2 linked regions of the Homo sapiens genome follow. The protein of the gene in region 1 purifies or fractionates together with the protein of each later gene. This does not show direct contact. Each region holds a gene or a part of one and is shown in the gene's direction. Other genes may lie near its edges.

Evidence for each region.
Region 2: the proteins of LLCFC1 (region 1) and CHST12 purify together in Homo sapiens (affinity purification with mass spectrometry; one large-scale study listed by BioGRID and IntAct). This does not show direct contact.

The regions. Positions count from the first base shown.
Region 1 is NC_000007.14:142,937,076-142,942,079, forward strand, and holds LLCFC1 (sperm-egg fusion protein LLCFC1 precursor), read left to right. Parts: upstream 1-2,408; 5' UTR 2,409-2,546; coding exon 2,547-2,679; intron 2,680-3,276; coding exon 3,277-3,512; 3' UTR 3,513-3,793; downstream 3,794-5,004. Other genes in the region: KEL (kell blood group glycoprotein), read right to left, coding at 4,177-4,338. UniProt on the Homo sapiens protein: Sperm protein required for fusion of sperm with the egg membrane during fertilization.
Region 2 is NC_000007.14:2,406,000-2,411,475, forward strand, and holds part of CHST12 (carbohydrate sulfotransferase 12), read left to right. Parts: intron 1-5,476. UniProt on the Homo sapiens protein: Catalyzes the transfer of sulfate to position 4 of the N-acetylgalactosamine (GalNAc) residue of chondroitin and desulfated dermatan sulfate.

The DNA.
Region 1 (5,004 bases):
CTTGAACCCGGGAGGTGGAGGTTGCAGTGAGCTGAAATTGCGCCTTTGCACTCCAGCCCAGGCAACAGTATGAGAGACTCCATCTCAAAAAAAAAAAAATAGAAAGAAAGAAAAGGATTCAAATACCATACCTTAAAACTAACTGTGGCCAGGCGCAGTGGCTCACACCGGTAATCCCAGCACTTTGGGAGGCCGAGGCGGGCAGATCACCTGAGGTAGGGAGTTCGAGACCTTCCTGACCAACAGAAAGAAACCCTTTCTCTATTAAAAATACAAAATTAGCTGGGTGTGGTGGCACATGCCTGTAATTCCAGCTACTCGGGAGGCTGAGACAGGAGAATCACTTGAACCCAGGAGGTGGAGGTTGTAGGTGAGCTGAGATCGTGCCATTGCCCTCCCGTCTGGGCAACAAGAGTGAGACTCCATCTCAAAAAAAAAAAAGTGATTATCACTGGATGGTGGAATTATTAGCCTTTTTGGGGTTTTGTATTTTTCTATATTTTCTACTTTGTAATAAGAAAAAATATTTAAGGGATTCCCTGTTTTCTGCAAGAATTTATCTCTTTTAACACTGCGGAGGTCAGGCGGGTGGTGGTGGCAAGGAAATGGAAGTAATGGAAACAACTCAGTTATTTCCACTCAAGCCTGCCCGGGAGGCAATTCTCACCCCAGCCGCCCTCCCCATTCATTCCCACAGAGCTGGAGATGGCTTCTCTTTTTGCCAGGAAACCAAGAGGCTGCTCCCCCAAAATAGCCAGGAGGGAGGAGATTAGTGATGGTTTTTTCCATTCAAGCATCATTCTTTGGATCTCACGTCAATGGGTTCAAGGTGGGGTGAGCAGGGTCACCTGCCTACTTGAATCTTTCCTTACTCACCTTCAAGCGACCTCCGTACCACTCCCTAGTCCCTTGTCATCTGGCTTGGACCATCAGGAAGTGTGTAAGAGATGGTGTCTGCTGTATGTGAGACAGCATCCATGTGGGCATGTCTGCTAACACGAGTAAACTCTGTGGGAAAGCATCTCTTTGTGTGTTTCTGTCTGCAGTTCCCTCTTGCAGAAAGGGTGCCTGTCTCCGCAGTGTCCTTGGACCTGCATGTGGTATTTCATTCAGGTCTGGTATGCATGGATGAGCAGGAGCAGTGTGAACTGGTTATGAGAGTTCAGGAGTGACTAAAGTCTTCTCTTACCTGTCTTAGCAGCCATCCTGCATCTAATGGCCTATGTCTCTGTTGCTGGTTTTCGAAAAAAGGCCTTCATTCTGTCTCCCTAACTCACAACCCTCCAACCATCTCTGCCCAAGAAGCAGTTGGGGGTGATTACCCACAGCCGGTTACTGCCAACAGATCTGTGCTCACCAGGCTCATGGGCAGGAGGCGCATCCAAGTACTGAGGCAGGATTCTCCCAGATCTGTTATTTGGGATCCTAGACTCCCTGCCGCACTGCGGCTTCTCTGCAGACTCTAACTCCTTTTGCCAAGCAATGAGGTTGGAGATGAGCCTCTAACAACCTTTTCTTTCGTCTAAGAGTACAGAAAGGTGTAAAATGAAAGAAGAGGGTGTTTCAACCTGGTGGTACAAGAGGACAAAGGCTAGAAAAGTGGGAAAACCAGGGGAGGGTGAAGAGAGGGTGTGAATGGGCTCTACCAGCTGCAAGGCACCCTGCTCTTTGTCTCTCGCTCTCTCTCCGTTCACTCTCTCTTCATCTGTCTCTCTGTCTCTGCGTCTCTATCTCTCTGTCTCTACCCCTCAGTTTCTGCCTGTCTCGGTCTCTTTCTTTCTCTCTTTTTCTATGTCTCTGTCTGTCTCTGCCTGTCTATGCCTGTCTCTGTCTCTGTGTCTTTTATACACACACACAGCATGTGCTTTTACCCATCCTTACCCTATGCTCCTCCCCATCTTTATTTTCTGGCAGACCCATGCTTCATGTAGAGCAGCATGTTCATACCCACGACTTGAGAATCCTGTCCGGCTCATCTGTTCTGGGCCTCATCCTATGCAAACCACTCTTGTTACAGAAAGGCCACATAGAATAGTGGGAAGATATCATATTTAAAAGTAAAAGTTAATCAAGAGTCCTTTTCTGCCCCTTAGTATTTGGGCGATTTTGAGTGAGAGAGTCATTTTTTCTGTGAGCCTCAGTTTCCTCATGAATGTAATAGATATGAGAACACTATGATTTTGCAGTCCTGGTTTCTACGTGGATCTAATGGTGTAATGGATATGAATGTACATTGCAAGCTGTTAAGTCATTTCTGCTAAATACAGAATGACCCACTGTGGTCATCTTGGAAGCCTCGGCCATCCCTGCTGGCTGTGCTCCATTCTTGTGCCTCGCCATTGGAACGCTCTAGTGAGCCGGAATGAAGTTCAGGCCCATGGCTGTGATGTCACAGAACATGTGAAGTCAGAGGTCCTATGGAAGGTGAGGGGAGAAAATGCCCCTGGAAAGGGTTAAGGGCCAGGACAGGAATGGGGCAGGAGGTGCACGGATCCTGCTGGGCACTGGGAGCAGGGGGCGGCCAAAGGCAGTGGGTGGGCAGGTCCATGCCTCCCCTGGCCCCCCAGCTCTGCAGGGCAGTGTTCCTGGTTCCTATCTTGCTGCTGCTGCAGGTGAAGCCTCTGAACGGGAGCCCAGGCCCCAAAGATGGGAGCCAGACAGAGAAAACGCCCTCTGCAGGTAGGTGGAAAAAAAGACAGGAGCCATACAGAGAAAACACCCTCTTCAGGTAGGTAGAAAAAAAGACGGGAGAGTCTGGAGGCTCAGGGTGAGGTCTGTGTGAGGCCAGGCCCCAGGTCACTGATGAGGCTAGGGTGAGACCTGACATAGGTCTGGTTTATGGGGGGTAACTCCAGCCACTGATGGTTATCATGTGAAATAATAGTGTCGGCTCACCATGGGCCAGCTGAGCTTGCATGCAACTTCTGTGTGTGTAAGCATGGTGCATTTGGCTGGCTTTTGTCATGCTTCAAGGTGGCCCCTGACTCCCCCAGTGTTGAAACCCTAGAGGAGGCAGCTAACCTTAGGAATGGTGTGTGTGTGTGTGTGTGTGTGTGTGTGTGTGTGTGTGTGTGTGTGTGTGTTTGAGTTGGGGCTGTGATTGAACACAGACCAGAAAAAACCTCTAGAAAGAGCATCCCCTCTCTGGTGAAGGCTAAGGATATGGGCAATTGGGACTGCAGCCCTAGGCTTCAACGTGTTTTTCCTATTCTAACTTCTCCTTTCTGGTTCAGGCCAGGGTCAGGGCTCAGTCCTTGTCCTTTTCCCCTGTTCCAGACCAGAATCAAGAACAGTTCGAAGAGCACTTTGTGGCCTCCTCAGTGGGTGAGATGTGGCAGGTGGTGGACATGGCCCAGCAGGAAGAAGACCAGTCGTCCAAGACGGCAGCTGTTCACAAGCACTCTTTCCACCTCAGCTTCTGCTTTAGTCTGGCCAGTGTCATGGTTTTCTCAGGAGGGCCATTGAGGCGGACATTCCCAAATATCCAACTCTGCTTCATGCTCACTCACTGACCCTCCCTCCCTCCTGGGCTCCAGGTCACAACTCCCAAAGGAGATGCAGGCATGGCTCTCTGCCTCTGATCACCATCACTGTATCTCAAGGTTCAGCAGCAGAGATACCAGTTGCCATCAGTGCTAACTGACTGCCTCTCCAGGTTCGGAGTTTCATCTCCCAGGGCCAGAGACAGCAGACCCACATCCTTCTCTCCCACACCTCTCCTGGTTTTGTTCAGGACAGCAGATTAGAGGCAGGAGGCAATGACAATAAAATAACGATAAAATCCTGAGAACAATTGGGAGCAGCTTTCCGATACTTAATCCAAGCCCTTCTCGTCTCCAACTAGACTGCTTTATTGTCCAATCTTTGGTCCACTGGGTGGCCTTCAAACCCACCAGGTCACCAATTGTTGATTCTTTCCTTTTCTTGTGTCCATGAAACATTTTTGGCATTTCTCCCTCTTATCTTTTCTAACTTCAGGGTATTTTTCTCCCGTACAGTTAATGACTTCCAGGCATAGAACATAGCAGGAACAAGTCATTAAGAGACAAGCGGAAGCCAAGTGCCAGCTTTTATTTTTGGAACAGAAGCAGAAAGGAAATCTTGCTCTGATTCCATGGATGTGACCAGGGAGGTGTTGGTCGATATTTCTGTGCTGTGGCATCTTTGGTAACCAAGTTACCAGAGCTGGCAGCGGCTGGAGGGGTTCAAGAGAGCACCACGTGCACAGCGGAAATACCTGGCAAAGGCTGGGGTGCTGCTGAGGGGCCCGTGGACTCGGAGGTGTGGAGGGCTGTGAGTGTCGTGAGAGTCCTGGGGGCTGGGCTTCCTACACATCACCTGAGCAGGAAGAGAGGTCATTGAAGGGGGAGGGTCCACAGGACAAAGCTGACCCGGTGACAAGGGGTGATCAGGGACAGCAGACAAAGAGGGGAACCAGGGGATCAAGTGCCCCAAGGGCCACATGGAGCATTTGAAATGTATAGTTCATTTAATCTGGCAATAGGAGTCCAGGAGGAGGGCCTGGGCTGTGTAATGATACCATTTATCAATGACAGAGAGGCAGGGTCTAGCGCAGGAGCTCTGGGGTGAAGTCTAATCTAAGCGTGTTGAAGACCTGGCACCTGAGTCTGTTGAGGGAGTACAGGGTGCTTAAGGAGGTGATGTCAAGTGGGCGCCACACCTAAGGTCAGGTGTCTGAAGAGGAATGTGGCACACAGTCAGCCTGTCGCAGGCTTTTTTTTTTTTTTTGTGAGACTGAGTCTTGCTCTACCACCCAGCCTGGAGTGCAGTGGCATGATCTTGGCTCACTGCAACCTCCGCCTCCCAGGTTCAAGCGATTCTCGTGCCTCAGCCTCTCAAGTAGCTGGGATTACAGGCGCCCGCCACCAAGCCCAGCTAAGTTTTGTATTTTTAGTAGAGACGGGGTTTCACCATATTGGCCAGGCTGGTCTTAAACTCCTGATCTCAAGTGATCCGCCCACCTCGGCCTCCTAGAGTGCCAGG
Region 2 (5,476 bases), about 140 Mb from region 1:
AGGCTGGCAGGTGATTCTCTTCTAGTGTGGGTCAGGGGCTGAAGGAGCCATCAGTGGGAAAAGACGGGTTATTGATGATACTGAAACACATGCGGCTTGTTTGTCATTTAAAAAAACCGTACATCTTGAGTTTCGATTCTTAAGTTGTCTTTCTTTTCGGAGAGTAGCTGTTAGTTTCACACTTGCTTAGTGGGTCTGTGGCTGCAGGCGGGACTGTGGTTCTCCAGCCCTGGCCCACAGATGTGCCTGGAGATAATTGACTCTCCAACTTATTACTTCCTGCTGTTAAGGTGGTGGTTTCTGTAACTGTTTAGAAACTTTAAAGATATTTCAGAGAAGAATGGGAGACAGGTACAGTTGAGTACGGGGTGGGGGCACAGTTGAGTATGGGGTGGGGGCACAGTTGAGTACGGGGTGGGGGAACAGTTGAGTATGGGGTGGGGGCACAGTTGAGTACGGGGTGGGGGCACAGTTGAGTACGGGGTGGGGGCACAGTTGAGTACGGGGTGGGGGCGCGGTTGAGTATGGGGTGGGGGCGCAGTGCTGAACAGGGCACAGGAGGAGGAAGCGAACAGGGACCCTTTGGCTCCCAGAACATGACCAGCTGGGGCTTTTCCCTGTAGACAGGAGGATGGATGTGTCTTTGGGGAATCTGAGTAGCCCAAGAGAAAAGACCTAAAATTAATGACATCAGGAGGTCCCCAGTCAGCAGACCCAGCTGGATCCCTTGCTAACGAAGCCCGTCATTAATAACCCCCTCCCAGTGTTCAAGGCATCAAGCTTTAAAAATCCCCATCCCTTAAATATGAGCAGATAACCAAGGGCATCTGAAGAAAACCTCTGCTACAGGAGATTGAGACCAGAATACACACTGGGAAACCAGAGAGCGTGCAGGAAGGAGCCTTAGAAAGCAGGCTGTCATTAATGTCCACGCGGAGGTGAGCGAAAATATCGCGAACATGAGGCAAGAACAGGAAGCTCTAAAAAAAAGCCACCAAAAGGAGTATTCGAATATCCAAAAAGAGAACTCTCGGATGTAAAAAAAAAAAATAAAAGCAGAAATAAGAAAATCAGTTAGTGGGTGAAAGATAAAGTTGAGGAACTCCCTCAGAAAGTAGAACAGAAAAGCAACGAGGTGGCAAATGAGAGAAAAAAGAAACGGAAAGGATCAGATCAGGAAGTCAGCAGCTGAATAGTAAGAGCTTCAAAGCTGAGGTGAGAGGATCGTTTGAGGCCAGGAGTTCAAGACCAGCCTGGGCAACATAGCAAGACCCCCATCTCTACAACAAAATTTAAAAATTAGCCAGGTGTGGTGGTGTGCACCTGTAGTCCCAGCTACTTGGGAGGCTGAGGTGGGAGGATCACTTGAGCCCAGGAGTTTGAGGCTGCAGTGAGCTGTGATCATGCCACTGCCATCCAGCCTGGGTGACAGAGCAAGACCCCATCTCTAAAAAATAAAATAAAATACATTTTAAAAAGTTTCCAGAAGAAAAAAATAGGGAAAACAGGATGAAATTCACAAAATAATTTCCTAGAACCCAAACTTTCTGGGTTAAAGAGGCTCACCCAGTGGCCAGTACCACGGGTGAAAATGCAGGTATCCTTCACTTTCATAGCCTCTTCACTTCTCAGCTTGGATATTAAAAGCTTGGGAAGGCTGGGTGTGGTGGCTCATGCCTGTAATCCCAGCAATTTAGGAGGTAGGTGAATCACTGAGGTCAGGAGTTCGAGACCAGCCTGGCCATCATGATGAAACCCCATCTCTACTAAAAATACAAAAATTAGCCAAGCATGGTGGTGGGTGCCTGTAATCCCATACTCAGGAGGCTGAGGCAGGAGAATTGCTTGAACCCAGGAGGCGGGGGTTGCTGTGAGCCCAGATCGTGCCACTGCACTCCAGCCTGGGCAATAGAATGAGACTCCGTCTCAAAAATAAAATTTAAAAAATTAAAAGTCTGGGCAGCAAACTTGGATAGTGAGAGAGGCTGAGTTTCAGATAAAGACTAGTGAGAGCTTGGGAGGGGAAGGATTTATTTGAAAGCATGTCTGCAGCTGTTGACCCCAGAATTTGGATAGTGAGAGTTCAGAGGCCAGGCGCTGTGGCTCACGCCTGTAATCCCAGCACTTTGGGTGGCCGAGGTGGACGGATCACTTGAGGCCAGGAGTTTGAGACCAGCCTGGCCAACATAGTGAAACCCTGGCTAATACAAAAATTAGCCAGGTATGGTGGCAGGTGCCTGTAATCCCAGCTGCCCAGGAGGCTGAGACAGGAGAATTGCTTGAACCTGGGAGGCGGAGGTAACGGTAAGTGGAGATCATGCCATTGCACTCCAGCCCGGGCAACAAGGGTGAGACTCCGTCTCAAAAAAAAAAAAAAAAAAAAAAAAAAAAGATCCTTGCGTACCCTCTCCAGGACATACTGTTGTGAAATCTCAGAACAAGAGGAGAAAGTAAAAACAAATCACAAATAGGTCATCACAGGTCAAGAGGCAGAAGGTTAGAACATGTGGAAAAAGGCAGAAGAACTAACTACAATTAAAATGAAAAGAAGCAGAAGGGCTTGGGCTTTTTCAAAGCAGCACTGGGTGGCAGGAGACGGGAGGGCCTTGCTTGAGAAATTCTGAAGGATGCATTTGCAGCCTGGAAGTCTACACTCAGGCAAGGGAGGGTAGGGTAAAGACAACTTCAGACTTGCTCCCAGATTTGTTCCTCATGCTTTAAGGAGGTGATTGGCAGATGTAGTCTCCCCAGATGAGGCAGTAAGTCTAGACTGAGAGAGACTGGCTGGTGGGAACAGGATTTCCCCCAGGTGAGAGGTGAGAAGAACCTGCTGAAGGGAAATCCCAGCCAGGTGCTGGTGTGAAGAGCAGACATGTCCTGACCCCAGCTGGTCAGAGGCTCCAAGAGGAGATTCTTTGGGAGAAGATGAAATTAGCAGGACACCTGACATGCTGCAGCATCTGGAGAGGAGTTGATACAGTTGGCAGAGTTGGGGCGGGATTAGTGATAAGTACTAAACAAAGCAAATGAAAACACAAGGCTGTTATTAGTTCCAGGGAAAATAAACCATCGTGCGGGAAACGAAAAATAATTATGGTGTACTACAAGGCGCAGCTGTGGATAGCCTCGCCGCAATGATAGTAATTTATGTAAACACTGACTGCTGCTCTAATTGAAATTATGATGCACCTGGGCAGAGAAGGTGTGGGGAGGAGAGCGCTGCATTTTCGCCTGTCGCCTTGGGAAGTCAGTCGCTAATGCCCCAAGCTGAACAACCAAGGTTCACTCTGAAGGCAGACATTAAAAGAATTAGCTAAAAAGAATTATGGAGCGGGTAGGGCGTGGTGGTTCGCACCTGTAATCCCAGCACTTCAGGAGGCCGAGGCAGGAGGATTGCTTGAGTCCAGGAGTTCAAGACCAGCCTGGGCAACATGGCGAAACCCTGTCTCTACTGAAAATACAAAAATTAGCCAGACATGGTGGCCTGTGTCTGTCTCAGCTCCTTGGGAGGCTGAGGTGGGAGGATCACTTCACTTGAGCCCAGGAGGTGGAGATTTTAGTGAGCTGAGATCGAGCCATCACACTCCACTCTAGCCTGGGTGACAGAGCAAGATCCTGTCTCAAAGAAAAAAAAAAAAAAAGAATCATGGAGAAGGGCGGAGGTGAGAAAGGGAAGCAGGGACAGAGACTGTTGAGTTTCTTAATAAACTTCACCTCACGGAATGATTTCACTCTTTCATGGATATGTATGTGTGGCATTGAATTGACCCAAATGGGAACAGTCTCAGATGGGCTTTCTGCTCTGATGGAATGGCGGCCCTCGCCTGCCTCTGTGCACAGGCCCTGTTAACAGGGAGGGTTTCCTTGCTCTGATTTCCTCTTGGTTATTGTCATTGTTCTCTGTATGCTGTCTCGTCGTTGTGGTCATTTATCAGAGATTCTGAGCACTTTTTTTTTTTTTCCTTTCAGGCAGAGTCTCACTCTGTCACTCAGGCTGGAGTGCAGTGATATGATCTCATTGCAGCCTCTGTTTCCTGAGTTCAAGCAATTATGATTACAGGCCTGAGCCGCCACGCCCGGCCGAGCGCTTTCTTTCGTCGTTTTCCAAGGGGGTTTTAAAACATACCGACCAGTAGAGAGAGCAGTATTATACATCATCCTTCACCTGTCCCCAAGTTTCAGAAATTAGGCAATCAGAGTTTGTCTGGTTTTTGTTAGAACATCACCTCTTTCTTGAGCAAGTACTGAGTGCCAGATGCTACTGTAAGCCTTGAGAATACCCGCTGTGAGGCAGGACGAGGACCTCCCTTTTAAGTCAGTGCAGGAAGACAGTGAGTGGATTAACTGGTGTATATGAGCTATTTGAGGCCAGGCATGGTGGCTCACGCCTGTAATCCTGACATTTTGGGAGGCTGAGGCAGGAGGATGGCTTGAGCCCAGCAGTTCAGGGATTCTGCGATTGCACCACTGCACTCCAGCCTGGGTGACACAGTGAGACACTACTCTAAAAATAATAAATAAAAGATTTGAGGTAGGGATGGGATAAATGCTGCTATGAAGAAAACCAGGGTATGGGGAGTGCAGGGTAGAGACTGGGATCTACTTTCTCAGGGTGGTTAGGGAAGGCTTGCTGAGGAGGTGAGCGTCAAGCAGAGATCTGAAGGAAGCGTGGGACTGCCCTGGGATTCCCCAGCTGAGGGATGGTGGTGCAGAGGCCCAGCAGCAGGAGCCTGCTGGGTGCGGTGGATGAACGGCAAGGAGACTGTTGAGGCTGGAGAGGGTCGCCGAGGGGGACTGTGATAGAAGAGGAGATCAGTGGAGTCCTGGTCACGGGCCATCAGAAGGACTCGAGATAGGAAGCCACTGATCCAACTTTTAATAGAATAACCGTGGCTTTGGGGTTGAAAATGGATTGTGTGGGCCTGAGAGCAGAAGCAGGGAGACTGGTTTGGAGCCTGTTGCAATAACGCAGGTGAGAGCTGATGGTGATTGGGGCAGGGTGGGGTGTAGGTAGGGCAGAGGGGACTTGACAAGTTAGAGCCTGGATAACTATTTACTTTTTTAAATTATTTATTTATTTATTTTTAAATTTTGAGATGAGATCTCACTCTGTCATCCAGGCTGGAGGGCTGGAGTACAGTGGTGTGATCATAGTTCACTGCAGCCTCAGCCTCCTGGGCTTAAGAGATCCTCCCACCTCAGCCTCCTGAGTAGCTGGGACTACAGGTGTATACTACCATACCTGGCTAATTTTTAAATTTTTGTACAGATGGCTTCTTGGTATGTTGCGCAAGCTGATCTTGAACTCCTGGTCTCAAAATATTATCCTGCCTTGGCCACCTAAAGTGTTGGGATTACAGGCATCAGCCACTGCACCTGGCTGAGCCTGGATATATTTTGCATGTAAAGCCCCAAGCAGGTTCTTAAACTGATCATAGTGAGATTTATTATCATTTTCTTCTGAAATAATTTCTTT